3 linked regions of the Homo sapiens genome follow. The protein of the gene in region 3 purifies or fractionates together with the protein of the main gene of each other region. This does not show direct contact. Each region holds a gene or a part of one and is shown on either strand. Other genes may lie near its edges.

Evidence for each region.
Region 1: the proteins of P4HA1 (region 3) and FIP1L1 purify together in Homo sapiens (affinity purification with mass spectrometry; 2 studies listed by BioGRID and IntAct, with this or other methods). This does not show direct contact.
Region 2: the proteins of P4HA1 (region 3) and CPSF3 purify together in Homo sapiens (affinity purification with mass spectrometry; 2 studies listed by BioGRID and IntAct, with this or other methods). This does not show direct contact.

The regions. Positions count from the first base shown.
Region 1 is NC_000004.12:53,372,806-53,380,867, reverse strand, and holds the start of FIP1L1 (pre-mRNA 3'-end-processing factor FIP1), read right to left. Parts: upstream 3,228-8,062; 5' UTR 3,030-3,227; coding exon 2,945-3,029; intron 1,796-2,944; coding exon 1,751-1,795; intron 1,644-1,750; coding exon 1,604-1,643; intron 1-1,603.
Region 2 is NC_000002.12:9,468,481-9,473,897, forward strand, and holds the end of CPSF3 (cleavage and polyadenylation specificity factor subunit 3), read left to right. Parts: intron 1-2,862; coding exon 2,863-2,959; intron 2,960-4,435; coding exon 4,436-4,537; 3' UTR 4,538-4,621; downstream 4,622-5,417. UniProt on the Homo sapiens protein: Component of the cleavage and polyadenylation specificity factor (CPSF) complex that plays a key role in pre-mRNA 3'-end formation, recognizing the AAUAAA signal sequence and interacting with poly(A) polymerase and other factors to bring about cleavage and poly(A) addition.
Region 3 is NC_000010.11:73,093,844-73,102,291, forward strand, and holds the start of P4HA1 (prolyl 4-hydroxylase subunit alpha-1 isoform 2 precursor), read right to left. Parts: upstream 3,024-8,448; 5' UTR 2,923-3,023; intron 1-2,922. UniProt on the Homo sapiens protein: Catalyzes the post-translational formation of 4-hydroxyproline in -Xaa-Pro-Gly- sequences in collagens and other proteins.

The sequences.
Region 1 (8,062 bases), on a different chromosome or scaffold from region 3:
ATTGTAAAACTATACCTGTAATTAATTTCTTGACCAACTGAAGGAATGGGTACAAAGAAATATTCAATCACTTTCATAACATAAACTAAAACTAATCTCAACTTTGTGGTTGAGATCAGAATTAGGAACTGAGTTGAATATATAAATTTTAAAATGAAATAACATTTCAGATAATATACCAATGAGTGAAAAGACTATAGGGGATTTTTTGGGTAAGGAAGCTGAACTGTAGTTTCAGCTCCTCCTAAGCTATTTCTACTTCCATTTCTCACTTTTTCCCTCTATCCATTTTTTGTTGTAACAGCTTTGAGATGCAATTCACATATTATACAATCTACCCATTCAAACAGGACAACTGAGTTTTAATATGGTCACATAGTCCAACCATCACAACTATCTAATTCCAGAATGTATGCATCACTCCCAAAAGGAACTTTGTATACATTAGCAATCACTCACCCAACTCTTAGTAACCACTAATCTGTCTCTACGGACTGACATCTTTAGCTTCCACATTTGTAAGGTTCATCCGTGTTGTAACATCTACCAGTACTTCATTTTATTGTCCTTGCCAAATAATATTCCGCTGTATGGATATAACACATTTAATCTATCCATTCATCAGTTGATGCAGCTGCGAGGTTTTCTTTTTCCACTTTCTATTAAGAATAATGCTGCTATGAATATTCACGTACAAGTTTTTGTCTGAATATGTTTTCATTCCTCTAAGGTGGAGGACTCACATGGTAACTCCATGTTTCACCATTTGAGAAAATGGCCAGGCTGTTCTTCAAAGCAGCTGCACCATTTTACAATCCCACCAGAAGTGTATGAGGGTTTTATTTCCCCATATCCTCACTAACACCTGTTTTATCTTTTCGATTGCAGCTTACTCGGTATGAAGTTGTATATCTTCCACTTTTTAAACCCAAATATTCCTTAAAATCTTCTAACTACCTCTCCCTCCATTACAGACACTAATGCATGTGGTCAGGGTAAAGCCGACATCTCCATGTACTTCTTTACATGGCTTGCTTTTTGAAATCTGGGGTAAAATTCTGACTCCCTGTATATGTTCTATAAATGAACACTTACATCTTTCTTACAATCTAACAAAGAAATCAACCTTATAACAAATCAGCTAATTACATTTTGAATGCAAACAATACATAGCATTGAAATTACAACCAAACTGCCATTATATCATCAAAAATGTTAATAAACTGGAAAAGCAGTAGTTTGGAGTGTTCCTGATTTACTTAAAAACATTTTCAATTAAGTTAAAATATTTTTATCAGTAGCTTAACGATTATACTGTATACTTCACTACTGAATTCACTTAAGAGTAACAAGTTACTTAACAGTGTAAAATCAGTCCAATCCTAAGTTCAAAAACTTTGTCCTTTAAACTACCAACAAATAGAATTGGCGTAAGATTAGGTCCTGAAACTGGAATAATCCTTAAAGGATTCAATGTCCTCCAAAATGTTGTAAGTCAGTGTTGTAATGAAGCCAATGATTGTAAGAAAATAATTTTGACAACTGACAGAACCATTGTTTCACACAACCTGTGTAATAGGCATCAACAGAAAATTTCACTAACCTGGCATTTTCTTCTTCTGGCCTTTCAACTTCATTTTCATCTACCAAGTAAAATAAACAAATAAATAAATAAGCAAACAAAATAAAGAAACCACTCTTAAAGAAACTAGTATTATGAAAATCTGAAGTGATCATCACAAGCACTAACCTAGGTCCTTTGCCAAATCACTGTGCACATGCACGTCCCATGGGCCTATAAGCACATCCAAAGTTAGATCACCTTATAATTACTTAACAAGATACTTATTTTATGGAAAAAAAAATCAGACTTTACTGCTATAAAAATAAGCTTAAATTTAAGAGGTAATGAAGATTTCCAGATCTTTGTAAAAGAAATCCTACACATTCACATTTCAAAGAGTAGTAACTAATGCTAAATCTTGCCACCAAACGATTTTTTTTTACAAGTTTATCAAAGTCACATCATCAAGGACCTGCATGGTGCCCAAAGTGCACTTTTACTATTCTATTCTAAAGACAATCAAGAATATATGTTTTAGGCAAGGAACAAACATTAACTTTCAAATCTGGTGTTAACAAGCAAGAAGGGATTGTGACTTAAAGTTAAAAACCAGATGTCAAACAAGTACCCTTCTAGAGAGAAGTACATGATGCATTAAATTTATTTTGAGAAAAACAAATACATGAGATGACACTGAAAACTATAAGCCGAAGGGTCATGAGATACCTCCATGATGTAGGTTAAACGGTAGTCTCTTAAAAAAGAATAACTTCACCTTAATACAGGAGACATTCAGAGTTTTCTTTATGGGCCATCTTTCTCTCTCTCTCTCTTAATTAATTATTTTTAAAGCACGACTTTCAGACAAGGAGGTACCCTTGCAGGTGCATTCCATACAAACTGACCATCAAGAAACAAGACGTTAGTTGTACAGCATTAACTTTATTTAGCTATTATTACAGAATGACTGTTTCTGAAAGAAGGGACAGGAAGGGCACCCTAAGGCCACAGGGCAAAAACAGACACCAAAAACCACCACCTCAGAATCGACAGAAAAAAACAAGGGTAAAGAGCGCAGCAGCTAGGCGATCGAGACGCCTCGGGGAAAGCACAGCGAAGCCGGGGGCCAGGACCGGTCACAGCCCCCCAGCCCGGCCCGGCCGCCACAGGGGTGGATGCGCATGGTGGGCGTGGGCCAGGCGGGAGACCGCCGCGGGGACTGGGGGCACGCGCACGCCGCGCTCGGCCTAAGTCAGGCCGGACAGGACTCCCAACCAGAGGCCCGAAGCGGCGGCGCGAGAGGCCAGGGACGCCGGCCGTTTGAGGGCCAAGAGGGGAGGCCTGAGAGAACCCGAGAGACAGAGACAGGAAGTTTCGTACCGCCATAGAGCCACTCTTCCTCCTCATCCCCTCCGGTCCCGCCGCTCAGCTCCGACACTAGGCGCTCGACCTCGCCGGCCGACATGGCCGCCCCGAGCGCAACTTAAACGCGGCGATCAACAGCCCCCTCCAACCCCTTCCCCAGCCTCGCAGCCCCGAGGCGCGAGAAGGGCGCGAACCCGCCGACGAACGAACGAAGAAAGCTCGAGACTCCAATCCCAGGAAGGCGACGGCAGCGGCGGCAAAGATGAAGCCTCCAGCGCAGGTCCGTCTGCGCATGCGCAGGAGACCCAAGCGGCGCGGCGCGTATAGGTGGCTTCGCTTCCGCGGCGGCCACCTGGGCCTGGTTGCGCCTGCGCGCTGAGGTGGGCCCCGCCCCTCTAGGATCCCGGTTTGCTATTTTGCGTGGCTTCCTCCCGTGGCGTCCTGAGTCGGCCAGGGTTCCCCGCCCCCACCCTTCTTTTTAATAACCCGTATTGCCATTGCTGGCGAGTACACCATTGTTCCCTTCTACTCTTCGTGCTCTTTCTTCTCAACTTTTTATTTGTTTTTTAATCTTCAGAAAGGCCTTCTTTTATTCTTTAATCAGCCTTGATACAGAATCATTACCTGTCACTCCCTTTCCTCACTGAATAGAGAAGAAATCACAATCAGTACTATTTCTCAAAAAATTAATTTTCACAGCCAACAAAAGCAAAACTAATAGATGAAGAATGCACTCTCCTTGTTAAAAACCATAAATTACTGTCAAGGTCAAAGACCGCCTCATTCCCCTACCCTTCTCTCCGGAGGTAGCCCTTGCTACAGATGCATATCCTGTTTGGAGTTCATCATTCCGAAATTTCCTATACACTTACTTCATGTGTTGTGCTGTTTTGGTGGGAGAACCTGAGATTGACAAGTCTTAAATAGTACAGTACAGTATAGTATCATCCTTCGACTTCCTTTTTTTTCTTTTTTTTTAGCATCCGTGTCTTGGAGCTCTTTTTCATTTTAGTATGAATCAAACTATATCTATTTTAAGTGCTTCATAAAATTGCATAGTATGGCTATCACAGAGTGAATATGGCTATTTCTCCATTGATGTACACCCAGATTGCTTTTGACTTTACACTTTTAACTACAACAAAAAATGACAATGAAGATCCACACGGCTCCTTGCAGATTTGTCTGTTTCTCAAAGATAGATCATAAAGTATGTACAGTTTTTATTTTAATAGGTAAACCAAATGTTCAGGCCGCTTCTGAAAGCACATCTTCCAGTGAAAAGATGACATACCATGGTTCAAACTGGAGCTCTAGGTTTGTCTAGGTTTTTTGTTTGTTTGTTTATTTATTTGAGGCGGAGTCTCACTCTGTTGCCCAGCTGGAGTACAGTGGTGCGATCTCTGCTCACTGCAACCTCCACCTCCTGGGCTCAAGCGATTCTTCTGCCTCAGCCTCCCAAGTAGCTGGGATTACAGGCACGCACCACCATGCCCAGCCAATTTTTGTATTTATAGTAGAGAGGGGGTTTCACCATTTTGGCCAGGCTGGTTTTGAACTCCTGACCTCAGGTGATCTGCCCACCTTGGTGTCCCAAAGTGCTGGGCTTACAGGCATGAGCCACCACGCCCGGCCTGTTTTTTTGTTTTGTTTTGTTTTGTTTTGTTTTGTTTTGTTTTGTTTAAAAAACAGTCTTACTCTGTAACCCAGGCTGAAATGCAGTGGCAGGGTCACTGTTCACTGCAGTCTCTACCTCCCAGACTCAAACAGTCCTCCCACTTCAGCCTCCTGAGTACCTGGGACTACAGACAAGCAGGTGCCACCACACCTGGCTAATTTTTTATTTTTTGTAGAGACAATGTCTCACCATGTTGCCTAGGCTGGTCTGGAACTCGTGGTCTCTAGCAATCCTTCCACCTAGGCCTCCTAAAGTGCTGGGATTACATGTATGAGCCACCAGGCCTGGCCTCAGTTCTTCATTATACCTAGCAGGTTGTATAGTCAGGCAATCAACCTTTCTATGCTTCAGTTTTCTCATCTATAAAATGGAAAGGCCAAGTTAGATGATCTCTGAGGTCTCTTTCATTTATAAAGTTTACAAACAGGGCATTCGCTTGTCAACAGAGAGAAATCCATTTTGATTGAACAACTAAATGAGTTTTCTTGCTCCTTGATGAATAAATATTGTTTTATCATTTATTTATTTAGCAATTACAGAATATCTGCTCTGTTTAAGAACTTGGAAAATGAAGACATGAGTGAAACAGTCCCACCCCTTAAAGAACTCTGAAGTTATTGAGAAAGACAGAGGGGCAGTAAACAACTCTCCTACAAGAGAAGAGGTGAATGTGTTGTAATAGAAGCACAAATGAAGGGTTTACGCCCAACCAATATCTCACATTATTTAAACAAACCATGTGGTTTTAATCTTTCTTACCTTTGAACACACTTCTGCCAGCTATTCCCAGCTCCCTTATCTTTTTATGATAATCTCTTGCATCCTTCTAAACTCTCTGGGGGTATAATCACCTTTGTGAAATCTTTCCTGAATCCCATTTTATCTCTTCCCATTTGTTTTGCCAGGAACTCTTCCAGCTATGTAGATTCAACAGTGAATAAAACAAAGTTCTTTCTTTTGTGGAGCTTTGATTCTAATAAGAGAGTCAGATAATAAACATATGAACGTATGATATGTCATGATGACAAGAATTGTGAAAAGAGTAAGCAATATAAAATGAAGTGATGGGGTGCAATTTTATATGGAGTGGTCAGGGAAAGCTACTCTGATGAAGTGATACAAGAGACTTGAATGGAGACAGGAGGTGAGCCCCGTGGATTTCGGGGTGACAGACTATCAAACAGAGGAATAAGAAGTGCAAAGGCCCTGAGGTAGAAGCATACTTGGCATGTTCAAGAAACTCAAAATGTAGCTAAAGTATAGTGAGTGAGAGAGAATGCAGATGAGGTCAGATGTATTTGGGGGGTGAGTGGGACAGAGCAACTCACTCCTTCTAGACACCATGCTGCTTCTATGCCATGTGCCTATCACACTGTATAGTAATTATTTGACTATATTTCTGTTTGCCTCAGGCTCTTCGCTAGACCAAGTCCACCTCCAAACAGGGCATCCCATAGCCATCACTTCAATTCCTAGTATAGTGCTTAACGCTGAGTAAATCTTCTTGGTCACTGTTGAAAGTAATAGAATGAAGTCTTATAGACTGTTTATGAGTATCGTAAGGCAATCACTCACAGTCCTGTCTATTGATCGTTCTATTTATTTAATTGGTTTCATGAGAAAACCAATTGCCTTTTGTTAAGGGATCTTTTTCTGTTTTCAGCTGCCTTTCAAGGCATTGCTTAAACATAACTGAAGAAATGATGAACAATACTAGAATAGCTTTTGTGGTGGAGGTAGCATTTGAGCTAAGCTTTGAAAATGAAGATTTCCACAAGCAAAGAAGCACATAAATCACTAATAACTACTCTGAAAAGACCTCTTCCTCCTTGCTTCTAAGCTGAGTTTCTTGCCTGAATATGCTTTCTTAGTTAAAGGTATCTTTCTCTCCCTGCTCACCAGGGGAGACATCAAAGGTAGGTAGTTTGAAGATATTATATATTCCTCCTTCCATTTCTTATATTATGACCTTATCAAACTACAGTGCTCCATATATTCTATTTGTTTTCCATTTTATTGTTGTTTTGTGGTCTGTTGGTTTCTGGCAAAAAAAATTAAAAGATAAGTTTTAATATACTTATCTCTGAGAAGTACTGAGAGTGTTTAGTAGATGATGATGAGTTAAATGATGACAAGAATTGGAGATCAAATAAAAATGCCTTGCTCACTATCCAGTATATATAGCAAGTACACATAAATGTGTTTGGCATGCATATGATGTTTATGCCCAACTGTGCTCTTTGCTGTCACATAAATTTCAATGTTCTTAAATTCTCAATGTTCTTAAGTTTCCTCAGCAGTAAATTGATACATTAAAATGACATTTGTACCAATATTGGGGAAGAATAACAAAGCTAAATTGAGGTTTCAAATGTCAAAGCATCTAGCCAGGCACGGTGGCTCACGCCTGTAATCCCAGCACTTTGGGAGGCCGAGGCAGGCGGATCACCTGAGGTCAGGAGTTCAAGACCAGCCTGCTCAACATAGTGAAACATTGTTTCTACTAAAAACACAAAAATTAGCTGGGCATTGTGGCACGCACCTGTGATTCCAACTACTCAGGAGGCTGAGGCAGAAGAATCGCTTGAACCCAGGAGGAGGAGGTTGCAGTGAGCCAAGATCCCATCATTGCACTCCAGCCTGGGCGACAGAGCAAGACTCCGTCTCAAAAAAAAAAAAAAGTCAAAGCATTTGACAAGTTATTGACAAGCAGGTAACATGTTGTTTAGGACTTTTCTTCTTTGAACAAGCAAAGTAATTGTACGTGTGTAGAGCTTTCCTTCCTCTTTATGTACTTCCATGATAAATTAAACCCCAATTAGCCATCTTCCTCTACATCCTGACATCTTTTAACAATAAACTTTACCTAGTCCTAAGTTTAGCTCATCAAAAAAGAAAAAATAAATTTTCTATTGCTAGTTGTTTCTGGAAAATTGTATTATTTCCTATTCATGTCTGTGCTGTCAGTAAACTTCGCATACTCTTTTTAAAGGTGAGAACAAAATCGTTTTATTTCTGTATTTGCCAGGTCCTCTCTTACAACATCAAGTACATGGAAAGTTCTTAAGCTAAGAACTGATCATGCCTATGGATGACCTAGAAATGAGGTGAAGAGAGATATGTTGGATTTTGGACAGAAGAGAAACAATAGCTGACTATTTTGAGCAGAGAAATACAAATCACATTTTAATAAAATAAACATGACGGTCTTAAGCAGGTCATTTTAATAGGAATTCATTTTACTCCACCATAACATCTGAAAGCAAGAAATGACTTTTGCCTGGGCTCTCCTACCTTTTCTGTCCACCCTGTCTCCCAAGTCATTTCCTCCAGCTTCATGACTTTTATTTATGTACATATGTATGTATGTATTTACTTATTTATTGAGACGGAGACTCACTCTGTCACCCAGGCTGGAGTGCAGTGGCATGATCTTGGCTCACTACAACCTCCCC
Region 2 (5,417 bases), on a different chromosome or scaffold from region 3:
TCCCAAAATGCTGGAATTACAGATGTGAGCCCTTGCCCCATGAAACGGTTTAACAAAGTAAGGTGGCCTGCTAGTTTAGAAGGCTTTTATGCTAACATTTCTGTTCCTTCCTTTCTTTCCCCAAAATTCTACACTGACCTTTTTTTTTTTTTTTTTTTTTTTTTGAGACGGAGTCTCACTCTGTCGCCCAGGCTGGAGTGCAGTGGCACAATCTCAGCTCACTGCAACCTCCACCTCTCGGGTTCAAGCGATTCTCCTGCCTCAACCTCCCGAGCAAGTGGGACTATAGGCGCATGCCCACCACACCCAGCTAATTTTTGTATTTTTAGTAGGGACAGGGTTTCACCATATTGGCCAGGCTGGTCACGAACTCCTGACCTCATGAGCCACCTGCCTTGGTCTCCCAAAGTGCTGGGATTAGAGGTGTGAACCCCCGTGCCCGGCCCACTAAAGCAGCAGTTTAGTGGCTTTAAAAAAAAATGATAGACTTTAAATGATGACTTTGTTTATAGAAGTTGTCATACATCTTCAAAACAGTATTCTCTGTGTTGTCATTTTGATTTTAAAGAGCATTCCTCATACAAAACCAGCCAACAGTGCAGGCACAGTGATTACCATGGCCGTTGAAAAGGCCAGAGATTTTACTGGTTCCCACCCCTGGAGCCTCTGGTTCTCTTAACTCATTTTGCAGAGGGCTCAAGTCTGCCAGCGTTGAAGTCTGAGTATCTTAATCATTTTTAGATCCTTCACCCCTTTGGCAGTCAGGTAAGGCTGTGGGGCGGGGGCAGGGGACACACATATATGCAGTTTTACCTTTGATTTCAAGGAGGTTAGACAACCCCCTCCCCACAGGCTATCCTGGGACCCCCGGTTAAACAGCCCTATTGTAGAAGGTGGGTGTTGCTGACCAGGGACTTGACTACAATAGTTCTGTTGGCGGCCCTGTTCCCTGGGGCTCTACAAGAATAGAAAACCCGTGTGGCCCTGGACTGGCCCCGCTCTCCCACGTGCTGCAGTCGGGGTGCAGAATGGAAGTTCACATTGCTGTGGCTGGTCCTCAGGAGCCGTGGGGAGGGCAGTCTGCGGGAGGCTGCGGCCCTTCCACTGGACTTTCACTCTGGCCTTCTTCCCTGTCCTCCTGACACCACTCCTCCCGCCTCCCCTCCCTCTCCCTCACCTCCCACAAACACACCAGAACTATTCAACTCTGAGGAACAGGAGTATGAGACAGCTTCCATTCGGCCAGGAATGGGAGGTTCCCATGTCCTTAAACTTCAAAGCCAATCGTACCCTTAAAAATGCAGCTATTTCCCCAGTTGTTTAAACACTTAGGATTAGATAGGAGTAGATGTATTGGTTTCTTCAGAGAAGCCAACAGTGGATCACATGAAAATGGAACCTTTTTTCCTATCCTTTTGAATACATTTCTGTGTTTAAAATATAATTTTTTTGGCTGGGTGTGGTGACCCACACCTGTAATCCCAGCACTTTGGGAAGCCAAGGCAGGTGGATCACTTGAGGTTAGGGGTTCGAGACCAGCCTGGCCAACATGGCAAAACCCCATCCAAAATACCCCTACTAAAAATACAAAAATGAGCCAGGTGTGGTGGTGGGTGCTTGTAATCCCAACTACTCAGGAGGCTGAGGGAGGAGAATTGCTTAAACCAGGAGGCAGAGGTTGCAGTGGGCCGAGATCGGGACACTGCACTCCAGCCTGGGCAACAAGCAAGACTCCGTCTCAAAATAAATAAATAAAATAAAATATAATCTTTTCCTTTGTGCTAGGGTCCCACCTAAGTTTATTCACACATATGATGAGCAGTAACTGCCTGAAGATGCAAGGAGTTGATTCCCACTCCCCACTTCCCCCGCTTAATACAGTGTTGTCAGTGCTTAACTGTCCTAGGCTGACCATGGTCCATGGGTTGTTTAGAGTCACTGCCTGCCTTTCTTACCTGCATTCAGCCTGCTGGTGGACTGCTGTTTCCTAACACCTCTGTACCAATGGGGACGATGTTGAAATTAACCATCAAAACTGTTTCTCTCGATGACAGAGGCAATGTCTTAGTGCCTTCTTTATCCCCAGCTACTAGCACAGAAGGAATCTGCCACACAGAAGATGCTCAATAAATACCAAGTTTAATTAAAGTAGGAGTGCACAGCTAGTGGGCTTGGGAGCCATTTAAACCTAGATACCTGGATTTGAATGCCGGCTCAGCTGTTTACTAGCTGTGAGGCTTTAAGCAAATCACTTAACTTCTGTGTCTTGTTTTCTTCACATGTAAAAGGGGATCCTTACTAAAATTATAGGTTAAGATAATGTATATAAACCACCTAGCATGATGCCTGCTGAATAGATCATTCTTGAATAAAGCTGTGTATTTTCCCTGTTTTATAAACTTAATAAGCTGTATCAAGGCAAATAAGAAGCTTGTCTCAAAAGTAAATACAGGCTGGGCATGGTGACTCCTGCCTGTAATCCCAACACTTTGGGAGGCCAAGGCAGGTGGATCACTTGAGGCTAGGAGTTCAAGACCAGCCTGGCCAACATGGTGAAACCCTGACTCTACTAAAAATACAAAAATTAGCTGGCTGTGGTGGTGCACACCTGTAATCCCAGCTACTAGGGAGGCTGAGGCAGGAGAATCACTTGAATCCGGGAGGCGGAGGTTGTAGTGAGCCAAGATTGTGCCACTGCGCTCCAGCCTGGGCCACAGAGCAAGACTCCATCTCAAAAAAAAAAAGAAAAAAAGTAAATACAGTATTCTGCTTTAGAACTAGGACCTATCTTCAGTTTTATTTTTTCCTCAAATATATAAAGCCGGGCATTTTCACTAATCCTGCATTTCTGCTTATTTTCAGGGACATATTTGGAGAAGACTGTGTAAGTGTAAAGGATGACTCTATTCTTAGCGTCACAGTGGACGGGAAAACTGCCAACCTTAACTTGGAGACACGGGTATGTAGCTGCTCTTTCCTACGTTTCAAGACATTTGGGAAATAAAGTGAAGGCATAAATAATCTGTGCTCTCACACTCAACAGTCTACTGTTGCATATTGGCATTTGCTTCCAGTGTTTCCAACATTTTTTTCACATTGTTCTTTTTATATTATTATGGTTGAAGTTTTCCGTGTTTTTCCGGGTTACTGCATAGTACAAGGTTCGCGTGTATGCCACTCCATTGCTGTCCTCTTCCATAATACAGCTTAGTTCACCTCATCCCTTCTCTAGTTTGGCATCTAGTTGACTCTCCATTTTTTAAAGAAGCCGCTCTTCTGTTTGCACCAGCAAGATCCAAGTGGATTTTCCAAACAGTTCAAAACCAGCCCGGGCAACACAGTTAAACCCCATCTCTACTAAAAAATACAAAAAAAATTAGCCGGGAATGGCGGCAGCTGCCTGTAGTCCCAGCTACTCAGGAGGCTGAGGCAGGAGAATTGCTTGAAACAGGGAGGCAGAGGTTGCAGTGAGCCAAGATCACATTACTGCACTCCAGCCTGGATGATAGAGCGAGACTCTGTCTCCAAAAAAAAAAAAAAAAAGAACTAGAGGCCAGGCGTGGTGGTTCACGCCTGTAATCCCAACACTTTGGGAGGTCAAGGTGGGTGGATCATCTGAGGTCAAGAGTTTGAGACCAGCCTGGCCAACATGATGAAACCCCATCTCTACTAAAAATACAAAAATTACCCAGGCGTGGTGGTGTGCCTGTAATCCCAGCTACTTGGGAGGCTAAGGCAGGAGAACCCAGGAATCACCTTAACCCAAGAGACAGAGGTTGCAGTGAGCTGAGATCACATCACTGCACTCCAGCCTGGGCGACAGAGCGAGATTCTGTCTCAAAAAAAAAAAAAAAAAGAAGCAACTAGAAGATTATTAGTGAGTTTCAGTCAAATTCAGTACCAAATGTTGAGTAGATAGCCACATCCATTCCTTGCCAAGTAATTTGTGTGGCATAGATGAACTTCCCTGGAGTATCATTTACTAGATCAAACTGTGGGCTTTGATGTAAATGTAGTTTACTAGACTTTCCCCAGTCTTTCACCCCAGCCTCAAGTCATCACTAATTAGGACCGTGCTGCTGTCAGGAAGCACTGCACGCCCACAAGTGTGTAGGGCGGCCGTTCTGTTTCATGGTAATCAGTCCCACCATGACCTCTGCACACACAGATGATTGTTCTTTTTTTTAGTTTGAGACCCGGTCTCGCAGTGCCGCCCAGGCTGGAGTGCAGTGGTGCAGTCACAGCTCACTGCAGCCTCAACCTTCCCGGCTCAGTGATCCTCCCACCTCAGACTCTTATCTGGGACCACAGGCACACGCCACCACAGCTGGCTAATTTTTTATGAGATGATGGTTTTTTTAAAGAGTATTCATTTATCTTCTATATAATCATTATAGACTTAATTCTAACAGTCTTGTTTGTGCCTCACTTTCAGACTGTAGAATGTGAAGAGGGAAGTGAAGACGATGAATCCCTCCGAGAAATGGTGGAGCTGGCTGCACAGAGACTGTACGAGGCCCTGACGCCAGTTCACTGAGACTGTGCCTGTATATGAACTTTGAAAAAATACTTGACTCTACTTTTGTTACCTAAAATAAAATGCATTCGTTTCTCTGGGGGAGCCTGTTTACTTTTAATGTCAAATGGCCTTTATTTCAACAGCCTGAATACTGCTAAATTGCTAATTAATTTGTCCATTATTCTAGAACTAACTACTAGATCAACTGCCCATTATTTTAGAATTTTGGATTCTTCTTCCAGGCATGTATGTGCAGCTCCCATTGAAACCATCAAGATCTGCCGATAGCAACCGCTGCTGGTTACCCTCTCCTCTGGGGTAACCAATTTGAGTTAATAATAAGGATTCTAAGTTGCACTTGAATCTTTTCTGTCTTCATCTCCACTGCTGCTGTTCGAGTCCAAGTCTACTCTCCCCTCTGAATTCCTGCAACCACCTCCATCTCCTCCCCTATAGCTGATTCCTGGAACAGACCTGGCCTCAAGCCTCTGCTGCTTGAAGGCCTTAATGAAGTCCTTGTGATAAAGATGAAGTCCAGGCACCTTTGCTTGCTCTAGCAGGGGCTCTCAATCTGGGCTACCCGTGGGAATCACGTGGGGTGCATCACAAGTGCACCTGTGCCCAAGTCCTGCCACCAGGAGGTGAGTTAGTCCGGCTGGAATGAGGGCCCTAGGTTGGATCTTAGTTGTAAAGCTCCCCCAGGTGATCCAAGCGAGCTTGGGACGAGCAACCTAAAGAAAGTCATGCTCTACGCCCATCGCCCCGCCCCAGGGAGCGGGGTCGGCCTCTGCGCCGGCGCCCCTGGCCCTTCTGTTACTCATCTACAGCTCCGTGATTTCAAGGCATCCTTCCCACCCGTTCGTTTTTAGCTCGGCTGCCGAACTTCATTGCACAGTTG
Region 3 (8,448 bases):
AAAAAAAAAAAAAAAAAAAAAAAAAAAAAAATATATATATATATATATATATATATATATATATACACACACACACACACACACATACTCATTTTATTTGGATTTTTTATATATATTCATATATTTATACACACACAACACATTATGGTTTAATTACAAGATTCAAGATCTCACTGCAAGAAAAGCAATAAAGTTTAATGCCAAGAGCCTATGCAATTTATTTTTGTTTACTTCCAAGCCTGTTCCACTTTCAGAATGGAAAACCAAAGTTAAGTTACCATATATAGGAGAGGGCATGCAATGTGATATACTTTCACAGACTAGACAATTTAGCATTTCAACAATTCTAACAACCTATTAACTTTTGTTAAAACCCTTTTGGCAAAAATGTATTAGGGTCACCCACATATACAAGTCCAGTCAGACTTACATGCCCAGCTCGATTTTCAGAAACATTCAATACTGCCTCAAGACACCTAGATACCCTTAGAGAGTAACTTCACATCTCTTACTTTTTAGGGGTTCTTATAATAAAGTTCATGAATGGACTTGAGTGGGGGGGCAGGAAGTGACATACAAAATTCCATGTAGGGTGTATTTGCATTTTCTGACATAGGACCACACCTTTCATCAGATTCTCAAAGGATTTCATGACCTTAAAATAGTTTGAGAACCACTATTATGTATCTCACAGGTCAATTCAAGAGCAATAATTATATCCTAGTTGATAACTGGTTGCTAAGTAAAATAAAGCATTCCTTCCACAGAAAGGAAGGCTCACAAGCTTTATGGCTGTCCCAGCTCTTGCTGCATCTCTGGAATAAATGCCGTTTGAACTTAATTGCCCTACTGAAAAACACTGCTTTTCAGTATACAACTTATTCTGCACTAATAGAAAAGGTTAACAGCTCCTTGCCAAAAAGCCAAGATTCATCTGCAACAACCCAGACTACAAGGCAATATAAAACTTTTTTTCAATAGTCTTTTGCACTAATTTTTTTGGCATAATTAAAAGTTGTACACATTTTTCAACTGTTTTACCATCTAAGTTACCAAAACACAAAATGGCCAATGTAATTATCCGCCTACCAAAGTCCTGATTTTCAGTACTTCAAAATAAAACTCATTTCAAAATGTCAATAAAAACAGCACTACCCATTTAAAAGAGACAGAAATAGTCCTTTTCCTAGTTAGTCTATGTAAATCTAAGAAACATTTGTCATCAGCTATCAAAAACAATGGCAGGACTTAAGGCACAATGTCCCAAAACCAAAACTGACTATGAATTTTATTAAAGGTAAGTGATAAAGTCTCTTTTCCCACATAAAGAAAAAAGTAAAATTTGAAGTTCACATTTCAGATTCTTAAATTACGCTCACAAGCTAAAAAAAAAAAAAAAAAAAAAAAAAAATCACGGGGTGTGTATTCACATTTCACATGAAGACAAAATATAGTTGAGGTTGTTCACTTTCAGCTTCTTGAATATATCGTCTTAGGATACCGATTTTCTCCATAGAAACTTGATTCTAAAAATCCCTTTAAAATGTTTTTTAAATTAACTTCCAACGTTCCTGCTATGCAGACTGAATTCTTCATCTGATTATTTTAGGAAAAGACTAGCCTCATTCATAAGCTACGTCTAAACCTAAAAGGGGAAATACGTTTCTAACCAGAACTTTAAAAAAAAAAAAAAAAAAGAGTAAAAAATTGATGAAAGAACGCTGCTGCCACGTCTTTGCCCCTCCCCCCTTCACGTAGTGGCTATTTCATCCCCTCCGAGTGCATTCCAAGCGAAAGTCCGAGAACCACTGCTCTCGGAGAAACCAGAAACAGTTAAGTGGAAATTGGCAAGTCTCTTTGGCCTTTTAGATCAATTCCTAAAAGAGGATCTAGCTGCTTCTTCAACCCTTTCTTAAAGAAAACAGTGCAAAATTCCAAGAGTCTTCACTCTATCCGGAACGCGTAAGATGTTAGTGTCTAAACATTGAATTTGTATGTAACAGAGTCGATTATTTAGGAGAAAGAGTCTCACAGTTATCATACCATCCTTCCTCCCCATTGAAACATACATCCGGGGGCCAGCCATGTAATCCAACTCAAAATCCTCACACAACCATGGAATTTGTTGGACTGATGTGGACTTTTAAAAGCTGCAAATTCTCGGCAGAGAGAGACAGAGAGACAGAGATTGAGAGAAGAGCTCTTGTCTCTTTTTAAAAAAAGTTATGGGGAAGAAGAGGGAAGGAAGCTTCCCTGACGACGAGGTGACCTGAGAGCCTACTTCCTCGGCGCTACGAGCAGAAAGCTCGGCGCCCCGGGCTACGTCTGGCAGCTAATGCTGCACCGCTGCGCGCAACAGATGAGTTCAGCCGGAACTTTCTGGGGAGGTCCCCCCAGCTCCCGGCGACTTTCGATAGGGCAAAAATGCCTGGCGCGCTGCGGATCCAGCTCCAAGCCTTAAAATCCGCTCTCCACCGCCACATGCGAACCATCTGCGGCTGTGGCGGCCAAAAGCCCACGCCCCGCGCTTGCGTTCCCCTTAGCCTCGTTAGGGAGGACCAGGTGCAGGGGAACTTGGAAAAAAAAAAAAGCAACAGAGTGATTCCTCCCCGGGAAGGAAAATTCAAGAAAGTCCTGGTCCCTAGGGCGGGGACTGAGGCTGCAGCAGCCCCAGCGGTCCGAGGCGCACTAGGGACAGAGGTGGGAAGGGGGGCACGAAGGAGCGCGGGCGCCGGGAGTCGCGTGGCGCAGGGAGAGGGGCCGAGTCTCCCGAGGGGAAGGAACCGAGGCTGCTGTGGTAACCTGGGGAACCCCCGCCCCAGAAGTACCACCACAGCGGGAAGGAATGGATCGCCGCAGCCGTCCGAGAAGGTCCACGGCTGCCCAGTGGCCTCAGTCTCCGGGATCGAGGGAGCGTCTCACCTGGAAAGTGGGACGAGAGGGCGGCGCGCTCTTCAGCCCCCAGTCGCCTCCACTCGGAGCGGCTACTTCCTACCCTCAGCCCGCTGGCGGCGCGACTGGGCAGCAGAGGGAGCCCGTTAGCCCTTTTATAACCTCTAGGCCGCGATGGCAGCGCCAGGGAGGAGGCGACTGCAGCCCTCGCTACGTGAGCTCGATCACACCAGCGCCCCGGCGACTGCGCAGGCGCCAAGCCCGTGCCTCCCTGCTGCCCCCACCCGTGGCCGGCCCGTGGAGTCTGAGGCCGAGAGGAGTGGCTGGGACCGGCCGCCGTGGTGTGGGTAAGCGGGAGTGGGATGTAACGCGCCTGCGCAGGGTTCTCGCCCCGCCACCGTTACCGTGGTTACCACGGGGTTTCCCCCGCTCCTGTTCAGTTTGCCTCCTTGATTTCAGGGTCCGCGTCAGGCCTAAGCGACGAGGCCGCCGGCAATAAAGTATCTTAAAAATGAGAAGAGGAACGTGGGAGTGTAGAAAATAAAGCAGAATTTTTCTAGGGTGGAAAATAATAGAGATTCAGTCTTGGTATCTCAGCTGTCTTGTTCCTCTCACATCTCAGCACTCATTTTATACTAATCGTGCTCTATCTCCTACCTTTATACCTTATCAGTAGATAATAGACTAAGAGCTCCAGGGTCAGGTTATCTCAATTCAAATCCTGCCTCAATCCTGTGTGTAACACTAGGCATTAACAACCTCTCCGTATCCGTTTACTCATCTGTAAAATAGAAATGACGGTACTACCCATCTTGTAAGATTCTTGTGAGAATAAAATGAGATAATGTATGTAAAGCACTTAACACATGCCTCACACACAGAAATGACTTAGTAAATATTAGATTCTCCAGTAACATTAATTTATATAAGGCACCCAATGTTGCGTTTGATCTTAGTCTAACATTTGCCTTAGTTATAAAGTAACCCCAAACCAAGGGTTTCTTTATATCTCCCTGTACTATGAGGGAGAATACAATGAAGAAGATAATTTTTTCCTTGTCAGTTAAAGAGAAAAATGAGTTGCTAAGACTTGTTATTCATTAAGAATTGTGGTTTCTAAAGTTTTCCATGTATGCTAAAAAGTATAGCAATAATTAACATTTGACTTACGCAGGAGGTGAGTGATTATATAGCTACAGAAAGAGAGAGAGGGTACTCTGGGAGCACTAGGCAACTAAAAAGTAGATATAATGATGTCTAAATCAATGGTTCTGAAAGCGTAGTCAGGGAATCCATAAGGTCAAAATTATTTTCATACTAAGACTTTATTTTCATACTAAGACTTACTGCCTTTTTCACTCTAATAACAATACAGTGAGGTCTTCCAGAGACTACATGCCTGTGATACAGATGGAACGCAGACACAGATATGAGAATCTTCTATTAGCCCAGACACTGAAGAGATTTGCAGAAATGTAAAATAATGCCACTCTTCTCACTAAATTATTTTGCTTTGGAAAATAGTTATTTTTCATTAAAAATATGTTATTAGGCCAAATGAAGTGGCTCACACCTGTAATCCCAGCACTTTGGGAGGCCGAGGCGGGAAGATCACCTGAGCCCAGGAGTTCGAAATCAGCCTGGGCAACATGGCCAGACCCTCTCTCAAAAAAAAAGTTATTTATGTTATGTTAACATGTAACAGGTTTATTATTGTTGTTTTAAATGAATAAATATTTTATATGTTTGTTTTAATTCCTAATATAGTAAATGTTGATAAATATGATCCACATAAAAGCTTTTTGGAGTCCTCAATACTTTTTAGGAGTATAAAGTAATTATAAGACCAAAGAGGCAGGGCGTGCGGTGGCTCACACCTGTAATCCCTGCACTTTGCGAGGCCAAGGCAGACGGATCACAAGGTCAGGAGATCAAGACCATCCTGGCCAACATGGTGAAACCCTGTCTCTACTAAAAATGCAAAAATTAGCTGGGCATGGTGGCAAACACCTGTAATCCCAGCTACTCAGGAGGCGGAGGCATGAGAATCATTTGGACCCAGGAGGCAGAGGTTGCAGTGAGCTGAGATCACACCATTGCACTCCAGCCTGGGGACAGAGTCAGACTCCATCTCAAAAAAAAAAAAAAAAACTTCCTCAAATGGAGCTGTAATCAACATATTCACTAGCCCTACATAGAGCTGACTCTGAAAGTTGACAGTTTACTCAGTAATTAAAATGGCCGTAGACTCTGAAGCAGATTTACTGTGAAGCTAAGGAGGCTTCAGCTTCAGGTGCCCTCATTTACACTAGCCCTTTCCAAGTCCCTGGAAGGGTCCCTAGTAATATGTTCACACTGTCCTATGCTTCTGTAAAATTTATAAAAGTAATGTATTTTAAACTGCAATCTTTAGTCCTTAGTGACTTCCCTCCACCATGTTTCCCTTTGTCTAGTGTTGGAGTGGCAAGCAAACATTTTTGAAATTTAGCTAAAGGGAAGTTGAGTTAGGAATACATTTGGTTTGAATTTACTGGGATATATTTTTATAACCCACAGTCACTTCCATGTGTAGTTAAGATATTGCCAGCTGTCCCAGTGGCTTCCAAGAATACTCCAATTGCCCGTTGTGCTGATCCACCCAGCATTGCAAAACAAAGGTGCAGGGCCAGAACTCTTGAAGTTATTTTAATGTGTCCAATGTTCTAGCATCAAAAACTATGTGAATAGTAGAAGAGAAGCAGGGTTGAAATTTTGGGAACCTGAAGCTAATCTGTGGGAAATTATTCCAATTATTGGATGTGTAAAATTGTAAAGATTTAGCATTCATCAATACCTAGCCAAAAAAGTGTTGTTTTTTTCTTAGAGACAGGGTTTCACTCTGTCACCCAGGCTGGAGTGGAGTTGCATGATCATAGCTCACCGTAACCTCCAACTACTGCGCTCCAGCGATCCTCCCACCTCCCAAGTAGCTGGGACTACAGGCCTGCACGACCATGTCCGGGTTTTCTGTAGGATTTTGTTTTGTTTGCAGAGACAGGTCTCACCATGTGTCCAGGCTGGTCTTGAACTCCTGGGTTCAAGCAATCCTCCCACCTAGGCCTCCCAAAGTGCTGCAATAACAGTCATGAGCTGTGGGGCCCTGCCCAAAAAAGAAATTTATATTTTTTTCTCAGAACTTGATGAGGACATCCACAACAAACTAAAGAGTGTCATTAGTTTAAAGAAATCTGATGGGTCCTGAACTCTTTTTAAGTCATATATTAAATAATCTTTTGGAAGCCGGATGTGGTGGCTCTCCCAGGTAATTGCAGAACTTTGGGAGGCCCAGGTGGGAGGATCTATTAAGGCCAGAAGTTTGAGACCAGCCAGGGCAAGATGGTGAGACCTTACCTCTACAAAAAAAGTTTTTTTAATTAGCTGGGTGTGGTGATATGTGTCTGTAGTCCCAGCTATTCAGGAGGCTGAGGCTAGAGGATCAGGATATAGGATGCAGCAAGCTGTGGTCTCACTACTGCACTCCAGCCTGGGCAACAGAAAGAGATCCTGTGTCTAAATAAATAAATAGCTTATTGGAGATTTTTCAAAACTGGACAACAAGCCTAATAATTTATATGACATTACCAACAATGAGTTGTGAACTTTAATCAATCACATATGCTATGTGAATTAGAAGAGAAAGAGAGTCTAGGTTAGTAATTCAAGATTCATAGAATAAATATTTATAGAACACCTACCTTCTGTGTCCAAGACACTGCCTACTGAGCTGTGGAAGATCAAACTTTAATTAGACAATCTCTGCTTTTAAGGAGCTTATAATCTTTGTTGAAAAGAATTAAAACCTGCACTGTGGCAATAGAAATTCATTCATCCATAAATAATTGCCTGCCCATATAAGCCAGACTATGGTAAGTGCTGGGTATATGATTCCTGCTGTTGTAGAATTTGGAGTCCTTTGAAGAAAACCTACAACATAAAAATGTATGTTTCAGCTGGGCATGGTGGCTCACACCTGTAATCCAAGCACTTTGGGAGGCTGAGGTGGGTGGATCACCTGAGGTCAGGAGTTCGAGACCAGCCTGACCAATATGTTGAAACCGCACCTCTACTAAAAATATAAAAACTAGCCAGGCATGGTGGCGTGCACCTGTAATCCCAGCTACTCTGGAGGCTGAGACAGGAGAATTGCTTGAACCTGGGAGGCAGAGGTTGCAGTAAGCTGAGATCACACCACTGCACTCCAGCCTGGACAACAGAGTGAAAAAGAAAAAAAAAAAGTATGTATGTACAACATTAAAAAACATACACACACAAATATACGTACATACACATTTGACAAGTGAAAATAATAAGGAAACCAGGTGTGGCTCACACCTGTAATCCCAGTACTTTGGGTGGCCGAGCTGGGTGGATCACCTGAGGTCAGAAGTTCGAGACCAGCCTGGCCAACATGGTGAAACCCCCATGTCTGTTAAAAAAAAAATACATATATATATATATGAAAATTAGATGGACATCATGGCGCATGTCTGTAGTTCCAGCTACTCGGGAGGCTAAGGCACAAGAATCACTTAAAACCGGGAGGTGGAGGTTGCAGTGAGCTGAGATCATGCAACTGCCCTCCAGCCTGGATAACAGAGTGAGATTCCATCTAAAAAAAAAAAAAAAAAAAAAAGGCTTGGTGCGGTGGCTCACAACTGTAATCCCAGAACTTTGGGAGGTGGAGGCAGGCGGATCACAACGTCAAGAGATTGAGACCAGCCTGGCCAACATGGTGTAACCCCGTCTCTACTAAAAATACAAAAATTAGCTGGGTGTGGTGGTGCGCGCCTGCAGTCCCAGGTACTCGGGAGGATGAGGCAGGAGAATTGCTTGAACCCAGGAGGCAGAGGTTGCAGTGAGCCAAGGTTGTGCCATGGCACTCCAGCCTGGCAACAGAATGAGACTCCATCTCAAAAAAAAAAAAAAAAATATATATATATATATATATATATATATGGCCAATAAACATGTTTGGCGGGGCACAGTGGCTCATACCTGTAATCTCAGCACTTTGGGAGGCCAAGGCGGGCAGATCACCTGAGGTCAGGAGTTCGAGACCAACCTATCCAACATGGTGGAACCCGGTCTCTACTAAAAATACAAAAAAAAAAATTAGCTGGGTGTAGTGGTGCACGCCTGTAGTCCCAGCTACTTGGGAGGCTGAGGCAGGAGAATTGCTTGAACCCCAGATGCGGAGGTTGCAGTGAGCCAAGATTGTGCCATTGCACTCCAGCCTGGGCAACAAGAGCAAAACTCCGTCTCAAAAAAAAAAAAAAATGAAATCATCAGGGTGCTCTGGGAAAGAAGAAGGCGAGGGACATGGCTTAGATTGATATCACAAGAAAAGTATCACTATAGAAATGACATTTAAACTGAGAACTGAGTTAGCTAGATGAAGTGTGTGAATAAGAACATTTAGAGAGAGAGAATATTACTGTGTGTCTTTATATGTGAGGTCCATGTAGCAACACACACACACACACACACACACACACACACACACACACACACACACAA